2 separate regions of the Homo sapiens genome follow, and region 1 is linked to region 2. Evidence: fine-mapped expression QTL. A gene starts in region 2. The other region holds a variant in brackets. All regions are shown on one strand. Distances are from middle to middle. Region 1 overlaps SMARCA2 (SWI/SNF related BAF chromatin remodeling complex subunit ATPase 2). Region 2 holds the start of SMARCA2 (SWI/SNF related BAF chromatin remodeling complex subunit ATPase 2).

The links. PIP is the estimated chance that this variant, and not a neighbour inherited with it, causes the effect.
Region 1: its variant is the best candidate, but not a certain one, in a credible set for the expression of SMARCA2 in fibroblasts (GTEx, PIP 0.77).

What each region holds. Positions count from the first base shown.
Region 1 is chr9:2,106,953-2,112,324 of GRCh38, forward strand. SMARCA2 (SWI/SNF related BAF chromatin remodeling complex subunit ATPase 2) reads left to right here. Exons shown (of 34, transcript NM_003070.5): 24 at 3,302-3,465. Among named protein-coding and RNA genes, the nearest start is that of SMARCA2, 94 kb to the left of the region's middle. The variant C/G (reference allele first, on the strand shown) is at 2,570.
Region 2 is chr9:2,012,739-2,018,110 of GRCh38, forward strand. It overlaps SMARCA2 (SWI/SNF related BAF chromatin remodeling complex subunit ATPase 2), which reads left to right and starts at 2,609. Exons shown (of 34, transcript NM_003070.5): 1 at 2,609-2,666. RefSeq lists enhancers at 2,109-2,158, 2,219-2,268, 3,055-3,611 and silencers at 2,319-2,658, 3,799-3,968, 4,269-4,378, 4,529-4,718.

The DNA of each region.
Region 1 (5,372 bases), 94 kb after region 2:
AATTGGTTATGTATCAAAGTCTGAAAGACCATGAAACTGATGTTAGTATTGAGCACGTTAAATCTTGAGCCACTTGCAAGGAGTGTCTGCCTTTGGATAGACTGTTACATGGTAGTTTGAATCTCCCTGAACAATATTAAAAATTTTGTTAAATTTAACAAAAAAAATTTGTTAAATTAAAAAAATATTTGTTAAAAAGATTGCTGATGATCAGCAAAGATCTTGACTTGGAAATCTTTGACAGAAAGGGTTTTCTAGCAAATTGCAAACCTTATGATAAGAAATGCCATAGCTTTGTATGAAAAATGACTTAATCTTTTTTGTTTTTTATAATTTGTCAAGTTCCCAGCTATTTATACAGTTTATTTAATTTAATTTTATTTTATTTTATTGAGACGGAGTCTCGCTCTGTCCCCCAGGCTGGAGTGCATCTCGGCTCCCTGCAACCTCCGCCTCCTGGGTTCAAGCAATTCTTGTGCCCCACCCTCCCAAGTAGCTGGGATTACAGATGTGTGCCACCATGCCCAGCTAACTTTTATATTTTTAGTAGAGATGGGGTTTTACCATGTTGGCCAGGGTGATCTCGAACCCCTGACCTCAGGTGATCCGCCCACCTTGGCCTCCCAAAGTGCTGGGATTACAGGTGTGAGCCACCATGCCTGGCCTATACAGTTTAAATACACACCAGATATATGGTTGGCCTGTTTGCTTGAGGTATCTGTTATAGGGTCTGAAAACTCCTTTGACCAAATAATTTTATTTGGATATTCCTTTTGTTTTTCAGTGCTTTATTTTGCATGTAAGGTTATTTCATCTCAGTAGGCATTGGTTGTATTTATATCTTATGTTACTGGCCAGATCCACGTCTGTTCTGCCCACGTGCAGTAAATCAATCACTGTGACACAGGTTTTGCAAAAGAGAAAAGATTTATTCACAAGGGCACCAAGCATAAAGATGGAAGAACAGCCCTCAACTCTACCTCCCTGAAGATAAGGTTTAGGGATATTTATGGGGTAAGGAAGTGGGGTGGTGTAAGGCACAGGGAAAGGTGATTGGCAGTGGGGAAAAATGAAATCACAGGTTCGTTCTACACAGGCATAGCCAGGGTTCATGGCATTTCCTAGGACATACATACAAAAAATGGCAGAGTCAGCATGATCTGATGGTGGAGTTTTTGGCTCTCCAACATCAAAAGGCCATCTCTTGGGCACTTGCGCTCAGGCCCAGTTTAAGGGCCAGTGGTGTCAACGGGTTTGAACTGGACAGAGCTGGCCAAAGTTCCTGAAAAACAACTGAAGTAACCATTACCATGGTGACGTATGCATGTTATCTGTAAAGTAGCCAGTGAAGGTCAAGTTTGAGCATTCAGCAGCAAGACCTTCAGCTACTGCAGCCTTCAGCTTCATGGAAAAAGAGAAAACAAAAATAACAAAAAGCAAGAAACCAGAAGCATGCAGGGCAGGCAGACCTGATGAGATTAACTGTTCGGTTTCATTAATCCGTGTGATTATCAGCTGGTTCATTTTCAGTTAATCAAAACTGTTGAACTTCTATCCTGAGAGTATAGATGTATAGTTTTGTACCCAGTTTTCAGAAACACAGATGCCATGATCTCTTCTTTCCCCATTTTAGAAGAAATTTTTGGTTTCTGTGGCTTTTCATTCAGTTTAAGGCAGAGGAGAAATATGTGAACCATTAATACATGTAATTTTTAAAAAAATTCTTGTAGCTGGAAAGATGATAGAGAAGGTTTCACAGCAGAAATATCTTCCATTAGCGTCGTGAACAGATAGTTCACCATGATCTCAGAAAGCCAATTCTGAAAATAAAAGAAAAAAGAGCCCCACATTTGAAAGCTCACTCATCAAAGCATGTTTAGTGCTCCTCCTCCAAAATCTAAACTCGGACAGTTGATTGTGTCGGACCTCACCAGTTCACTAAACTCGAAACCTAATGTAGAAAGTAAATTGGGTCTAAAGAATGTGACTCCATGTGACTCAATGAGAGCCCCCAGACCCCTCATTTCTAATCCCTGTTTGCTGTATGCAGGGAAGTGATTTGTTTTCTCCCTCTTCAGGAGGGCATTTGTTATTTTTATTAAATGTGAAAAACAGATCGTCCCCATGTTTGAGAACTTGGCCCTCATAGTAACTTGATTTCATTAGCTATAGTCACTTAAATGTTTTAATCCTCTGAAATAAATTGCTGGTATGTTTTCATCCTTAAAAAATGAACAGCATGTAGGAATAATATTTGAAGAGCAGCTGGTCAGAGACTGTCATGTAACATGCATACATATTTCCCAACAGCCTAAAGCCTTCTTTCAAAATTCAGCATCTAAGCTTTTCTGGTGAAATATGTTCAGATGGAATACTGGTGTTTTTTTTTTCTCCCCTTCCACAATGCATTTCATGAAATGGCTGGGTAAATACATTACACATACATAATATGTGATTGAGTGGCTCATCTGGAATGCAAGAATGCCCCAAAAGTGAGCACCAGACTCTGAGGTTTGGTACTGTCTGCTTATTCACTATTTTGGAGCCTCTTCAGACCCCATGGGGCAAA[C/G]CACCCCCAAGTATTTAACATGCTGCTCTGTTTAGTTGGTTTTGATTTAGCATGCTTTGAACTCAACAGAGCAGGATGATAACGTGAGAAACAGACTAAGAGATTTCTTGTGGGGGGGGTGGGGATTATTGTGGCTTTAAGTCTTGCTAACAAGGATAAAATTATTCCATTTGCAAAAAAAAAATTACATTCATAATTTATGTTTTTACCAACCAGACCATACTTAGTAGTAATCCAAATGGTAAAGTAGTAGAAAAGAACTTTCCTTTTTTTTCTATTTTCTTGGCATAAAAAAAGTCCTTGCTTTAATGCCTATTGGCAAAGTTTATTTAAGCCATTATTACAGTTTTAAGTGCACGTGTGTGTGTGTGAGAGTGAAAGAGACAGGGCGAGAGAGGAAGTGTGTGTGTTCTTAAAATTATTTGTTGTTATAAATCACAGAAATAAATCCAAAAAATGTTTTCATTGTTTTAGGTGAGAGTAAGGATTTTGTAAAATTTGTGAAGTTGCGAAGATGCCTCATTAGAAATGTTTAAGCTGTTTCTTTCTTTTTTTTTGTAATTGCAAAATGTTCAAAGTTTTTTATCCAGAAGTACAAAGCCCTGGAAATTACCTCACCAGTGTTAGGAGGAGTCTGGGTATATTTCTTGAAGGAAGCAAGCCTTTTTGTCTCATTCTGTGCCATTTTCAGACAAGAGTTAATTGGCAAATTAATTTTTCTGATCCCCTCAGGCACCACCAAGTCTGAAGATCGTGCTGCTTTGCTGAAGAAATTCAATGAACCTGGATCCCAGTATTTCATTTTCTTGCTGAGCACAAGAGCTGGTGGCCTGGGCTTAAATCTTCAGGCAGCTGATACAGTGGTCATCTTTGACAGCGACTGGAATCCTCATCAGGTCTGCATGTCCCACTCAGGTGCCCAGGCCTCCCTCTGGAGAGCAACTAAAAGATGATCAGTTTCATTATTCACATTTACAGGACAGAGCAAATATCTAAACGAGTGGGCTGTTGCTTTCTTGGAGCCAATTCTTCTGGCTGTTTTCTTATCTCCCTTAGAGCATAGATACGAGGTCCCACATATGCCTTTGAAGAGCTGAAGTTTGAGGTAGAAAAACTTAGTTTCTCCTTAGTTTTAATCCCATCTCTTGGGATTGCCATTGAACAAAGTATATTTAATGAGGGATAAGTCAAAAATGTTGCAAAATCATAGCAGTAAGAACAATAGCAACCATCATTCATGGGACCCTTAATCTGTGTCAGCCTCTTGGGCATTTTTTCATTCAGTTTTACGACAACCCTGTCAGACGGTTAATATGATTTGAATCTTTGCAGTCAAGGAAACTGAATCCTAGGCAGGGTAAGTAACTTCCCCAAGGCCAAATAGTATTACAGTAGTTAACCTTTTATTTTGTGTTTTATTTAAAGTCATCATCAAAACATATTCTAATGAGCATTTATTGTTGTAAAGCTCTTTTAGCCAGGTAAGTTCAGGGCTATCCTTTTAAAGCAGTACTTTGATGTTTTGTTTTTTTTTTTTTAAATTGAGCGGGTCTCTCATGGCACTGGTTTTCTAAGTTACTCTGGGAGGTGAGGCATCTGCCTGTAGGATATTGGGTAGGGTGATATTGGTCAAGATTTGATTCATACTGGAGCAAATGTTGAATTCAAAACAGTAAAAATGAAGAGCAGGTGTGGTGGCTCATGCCTGTAATCCCAGGACTTTGGGAGGTTGAGGCAGGAGGATTGCTTTGAGCCCAGGAATTTGAGACCAGCCTGGGCAACATGGTGAAACCCTGTCTCTACAAAAAAATACAAAAATTAGCTGGGCACAGTGGCACTTATACCTGTAGTCCCAAGTTCCTCAGCAGGCTGAGGTGGGAGGATTGTTTGAGTCTGGGAGGCAGAGGCTATAGTGAGCCATGATCGTACCACCGCTCTCCAGCCCGGGCGACAAAGCAAGACCGTGTCTCAAAAAAAAAAAAAAAAAAAGAAAAGCAAAAAGAAAATGGCAACTCTCACGTAGGAGTATGAATTCTACATCAGCTTTTCCTAGGCTCCTCGTTGAGCCCTGGTTTTCTCAACAGTAACACTATCTCACTGGGTTGCGAAGACTGAGTGGCAGTGCCATATAGCGTCACTTTTGGCAGGAAATCACATTCAGGGGTACATTAAAATTCTAAGGGAGCTTTTAAAAAATATGCATGCCTGCTTTCTGTTCCCTGCCACCGCACCCCAGTTTTCTTATTCGGTGGAGCTAGGTGCTTCCTTTGAGCGCTCCCAGGAGATTCTGAAATAGATTCTCATACAGATGAGGAGCACTGATTTAAAGACTCAACTGTGGGCCCAAACCACCAACACTGGGCCACTGCGTGTACTTACCATTCTCTGTAGGTGAATAAATTAAAGCGACTATTAAAATTTTCTGATCTTGAAAAGGATTGGGAGCCACCAGCACAGAATATATTAGTTCTAAGTCTTCAGGAAATATGGTTACGTATTTTTATAAATACATAAAAGTGTTTCATTCCAAGGCTCAGGTAGAATTCATATTGATGTGAGAGATCTGCAGTTTTTCTTTTTAGCATTATGGATTCAGTATTTGTTCCACAAACATTTATTGAGTGTCTGTTATGCAGCAGGCAGTGAGCTAGGCTGGGTATCTAAGGGGGAGGAAGGAAGACGTGATGTGACTCCTCTCCTCCTGGTGTGCTCAATGTGATTGGATGTTTAGATTATCCTTGCTGGTACCTAAGTTTTGAGGACGATCTATAGGTGAATGGAGAGTTTGCTTGTATTCTGTCTT
Region 2 (5,372 bases):
TTCTCCTGTGTTGAGGCCTTATTTTATAAAATTCGTAACTGCTAGGGTACAAACTACAAACAAGACGAATTTTTAGAGGAACAACTTGAAGGGTGATGGGGGAAGGTGGTGCTTTCTTAGACCAATGCGAAGGGAGAGGGAGATGCAATATCTATATTTAATCTCTGTTCCCAACGATGTATTTTAATTCCCATAGCTGTGTGTATACAATGCGTGGATACCAACGCCTCCAAGGACAACATCAAAATTTTATATGAGCTGAAGAATATACACATATAACAAAGGGAATGTTTTCTTCTTTACTTTCCCTGTGACAAAATGCCAGAAGGAATGGACAGTTTCTTTCTCCAGGGACTTACTAATTGATTTGTTTTTGTTTTTGTTTTTTTGAGGATTTGCATGGCAAGTGGAAGTAGAATCTTAAGGGGATAAAGGGCATTTATTCACAAGGGAATAAAAGTGAAGTTATCAATTTCTGAAAATTGGCATGTGAGGCCGGCATGCCAGAGAAACAAATTAGACCCCAAAAAAATTAAAACCTAATACTCTCAATGTAATAAGCATTGCTATTAGGTTAAATCTCTTTATTAGAGACAGGTAGGTTATCTGGCTATATTATTAGTTGCGACTTATTAGGCAGTTAGAAGTTAGTATTTATGTTACACTTTTACTATACTACTAGTCTTGTTTAAAATTTCTCCCTATATATTTCTCAGTTAATAGTTATACCGGCATATCCTCAGGCAGAAAAACAAGTTCTTACAATGGATCCTTCAGGGCACACTATATTCTATTTCTCTTAGCTGTGTTATCTTTCGTTGTCTTGAGGTTCACTTCAAGATAGACAGAAAATGATGAAGCTAAAGTTAACAAGCAAGTAGCAAGACCTTAGAAAGCTATAGGGTGGGTGATCACCAACACTCCCAGCCATCATGAAAATGCTGCCCTAGTGGGCTCTGCTTCAGCCAGCAGTGGACCAGTGATATAAAGAATTCTTGCTTCTTAATGACTACATGGCAGTATTTGGCGTTCTTTCCATTACTTCTTGTCTTCAACTTATCCAGCCTGAAGTTTTAAGCATCCTAGAACTGCATTTCAGACCCAGTTGCTCAAATGGAGTCAATTTTGCAACAGTAAAATGGTCTTAAAATAGGATTTTACTCTAGGGGGAAGAATCCTCAACCAGATAGTCACAGTGCACTTTGAATGACTAATTTAAGCCATTACATTACGAAATAAGGGATAAATCATACTTTTCATAACACTACTGCATAGGAACAGTTTTAAGAGTCAAGCATCTACATTAATCTGAGTCTAAAATAATAGGCCCCTGATTTAAAGTCTCCTAACATTCTTTCACACTTCATAAAACTAAAAATAAAATTGTCTCACCAAACACCGACCTATTGGTCCGGCCAAAGTACTGTATTTCAAGGAAAATTGGAGCAAAGAGGTCTCAAAACCGCGACTTGCCAGCAAATTACAATTTGCAGCCTTAATTGGTCTCAAATGCGGGGTGAGAGGGAAGAGACTACGGTCTGTAGAAAATAAGAGATTTATTCCCCTTTTTAAATCAAAACCAGATTCCATGCTTCAGCCGCCCCCTAACCCGCCAGCCCCGCCCCCAGGGTTTGTTTTTCCATATTTTTGTATATATTTTAGCGAAGATGGCAGGTGAGGGAAGGTTATAGTGCTGTACCTAGTCCACGAAGTAAACAGAGAGGTTAGGGTGGGTTTACTTATTTATAAGGCGTTCAGCCTCTCAGCTGTTTCTCCCTCGTTGGCATTTGGAAGCTTGCAGTCCTTCAGGGAAGAGACAGATTTGGCAGGAACGTTCTTTGTGCCCGCCTCCCTTTTCTATTTTTTATTTTTTTACCTGGAATAGGGGGCAGATTTATAATGACAGCCTTAGGGAAGGGGGAGAAAAAGTTTCAGCCGGCACGACAATGCCCGTTTTTTCCACAGTCCACACTGTGCCACAAACAGCTTTGGTGCCACTCGGAGCCCGTCCCCCGTCCCCTCCCTCTCTCTCTGCAGGCTCGCACTGGCAGGCGGAGGCACAGTTAAATTCCAGCACCTTCTCCACATACCCCCGAACTACTACGCGCTATTACTACGGCTGCCCTCCGTTTTCGCTTCGCCTCCTCCCCTTCCGCAGTCTCCCTGGAGGAGCCCCGCGGCGCCCGAGGAAGAGGACTGCCAGGGAAGGGACAGCGGGCGCCCAGCTCCAGCAGGGCTTGGGGCTTTCTGCATCCCGCGCAGTTTCTCTGCTCCAGGCACAAACGCGGCCCGAGAGCCGGCGCCTTGCAGTCACACACGGATCCACGCATACAGTAGAGCTGTCTAGATCCACATTCTTGCACACCGCCCCCTCCTCCCCCCGCGCTCCCGGAGTCGCTGAGCTGAGCGAGTGACAGGCGCGTCCCGCCAACCCGCGCCCGGACGGGCAGGGAGGAGCGGCGCGCGGGGCCAACTGCGGCGCGTCTTCCGGCGCCCGCGGAGGAGGCGAGGGTGGGACGCTGGGCGGAGCCCGAGTTTAGGAAGAGGAGGGGACGGCTGTCATCAATGAAGTCATATTCATAATCTAGTCCTCTCTCCCTCTGTTTCTGTACTCTGGGTGACTCAGAGAGGGAAGAGATTCAGCCAGCACACTCCTCGCGAGCAAGGTAAATATAACTTACAACTCTTTTCTCCTCTTTCCCCTCCCTTCGGCCGCCCCGCTGCAGCCGCCGCTCAGACCCCTCCGGCACCACGCCGCCTTCGCCCGGGATTATCCATTATTATCCTAATTATTATTTATTGTGCATGCAAGGAGACCAAAACAAACAGGCGGGCCAACCGCCGCGACAAAAAAAAGCCCGCCTCCTCCCCGCGGGCCTCAGGTGGAATGCTCTAACGACAGCTCCCAGGCGGCGGTGGAAGAAACGAGAAAGTTTCAACCGAACCTTGCTGTTCTAATAATAACAGTAATAATTACTACTTCAAGGGGGCAAAGGAGGAAAAAAATCCCAACAAGCCACAGCCTTGATCCTGAGTGGGCAGTCAGAGGCGCTGCCAACTCAAGGTTGCAACACACACATTGGGCCAGGTTGCAATCCCCCCATCCCCTTAAAAGTGAGGCGGCGGGGAGGGGGGTGGCCGCAGGAGGGGGAAGGCCTGGGGGACAGGGGAGGAGGATGGAAACGCTACTGTTCATCCCGGGCAACCCTCCCCGGAAGAGTTGGAAGGGGAACGGGAAAGGAGGGCGGGGAGCCCAGGCTGGCGGCGGGGCGCCAACGGACGCTGTTGCCACCCGCTTCCCAGGGACTTGTTCAAAGGGCTCCGGCTGCGGAGACGTGAGCGGATCGCAGCGGGAGAAGCCTGAGCTGACGCGCGAAGGAGGTAGCGGCCACTGCCGCGGGGCCGGTGCGTGCCTGATCGGAGGTGTCACCTCCACTTTCCGCGTTTCCTCCGGCGTGGATGGGGAGGCTGATTGGTAGGCAGGCCTTTAGGCAAAGGGGCTGCCAGGGGGCTGCGCCCCGGGCGCTGCGGACGTCCCTGCCTCTGGTACCTGGCGGCAGCGCAGGCTCGGGTGTTAAAGTTCGGGATGTCCGGCCCGGGCCGCACTGCTGGAGGGAAGGGAGGAGGCCCCCAAGGAGGTCGGAGGTGCCCGCCAGCCTCCGTTACCCTGCCCTCCCTCTCCCCGGGTCCGTGTTCTTTTGCTTCGCGTCTTCCCCTTGCTTGCGCCGCGGGAGCTGCGGGCGTGGGGCGCCTGCGATCGTCCGGGTGCTAGGGGCGCGCCGGGACCCAGGAGAGCCACGGCGGCGGCTGCGGGCCCGGGAGGCCATGATCCGGATAATCCTGTCTGCCTGACTGTCACAAACAGGACCCGCGCACCACCGGGCAGCGGCGGTGTGGTTCGCCCGGGAAGGGGAAGGGCTGCGGTGGGGAGGGAATAGGGGGGTGGCGAGGGCGGGAGGCGGGGAGACCGGGTAGGAGCCTCCTCCCAACGATGACACGCACTCCTTCCTTCTCGCTCCCTGCTCAGGAGTTTGCTTTATTCCCATCCCAACCTGGTTTACCCCTTCCTTTGCTCTCCCCCTCCACCCGGCCGTCTTCCCTTCCTCCCGTTTGCGTTGCAAAACACGGCCATGCCATCTGCAAAGGTGTCGCGATGCACTTCCCTAAATAACCGGTCCGGCGCGCCAGCCCCTCGGCGCCCTCCGGCCGCAGGGCGCACACGGAGCACAGTGCTCCCGGTGCCCCGCACCAGGCCTCGCAGCCTGGGTGCAGTTACACGGCGGAGGGCGGGGCGCGGCAGTGCGGGCTCCGGCGGACACCCGCGCCTTGGCCGGGGCACTTGGGCCGGTTTCCGGTACACGCGGGGAAATCGCCTCCTGCCAGTGTCTGATCGCTCGCCTCCGCCTCCGCCTCTGCCGCCTGGATTGCATTATTATTTTTATCCGGGTTGCCGTTTGCTGCGGATGGTGGTGAGCGCGGGGCTGGCTGGGCTGCTTGGGGGGTGGGGTGGAGGGAAGTTGGACGTGGATCAGGCAGGAAAAAAAAAGTTTGGCAGGGCGGCTAAGTAGGGTGGAGGGGTGGGAGGGGGCTGCGAGCTCCCGCGGCTCCAGCCTCCGCGCCCTCCCGGCCGGCGCGAGTGTGTCTGCGCGTGAGTGTGAGTGTGAGTGTGTGTTGTGCGCGCAGGAGCCAGTGCGTCGGGAGCAGCGGCTCGGGCAGCTGCTCCTGCCCGCACCCTCCCCTGGAGCCCGGGGAGGACAAGGCGAGGTTTGGTGGCGAGGGCTGGTGGGGGTGGCGTGTGCGTGTGGTTGTGAGTGTGTGTGTGTGCGCGCGCGAGCGGCGGAGAATCAGGAAGTCACAGCAGCGAAGCGCACACAGCACACAGACATGTTTGATTGCCGTGACATGACGCGCGCGAGGGAGGAAGCGGCAGCGGCGGGGGCCGGGCCGCGGGCTGTGGCGCGGGCCTAGAGCCGCGGCTCGGAGACCGGTTCCCGTCCGCCGGCCGCGCCGCCACCCCAAGCTCCGCGAACCCCGCGCCCCTTTTTGTTCCGCGTCCTCCAGGTAAGGAGCCTGCGCAGCCCTGCCGCCGGCTGTGTGCGGAGCTTTCCAGTTCTTTCCCTGCCAGCCCCCTCCGGTCTCCCGGCTCGCCTTTCCTGCAAAGTCAGGCAGGCGGGGGAAATGGGCTCCTTGTCCTCCGATCGATTGCGTGGAAAACTTTCCAGCGGGAGGCACCATGAGGGGGAAGAAGGCCTTGCTGGCCGCTGTTGCTTGTCAGTTCTTTCTCCTCCGGGTCCGGAGAGTGTGAGTCGCTGCGCCCGGGGCTGTTGCACATTCAAACTTCGGGCCTAAACGTACCTCCAACTCTCGCAGGT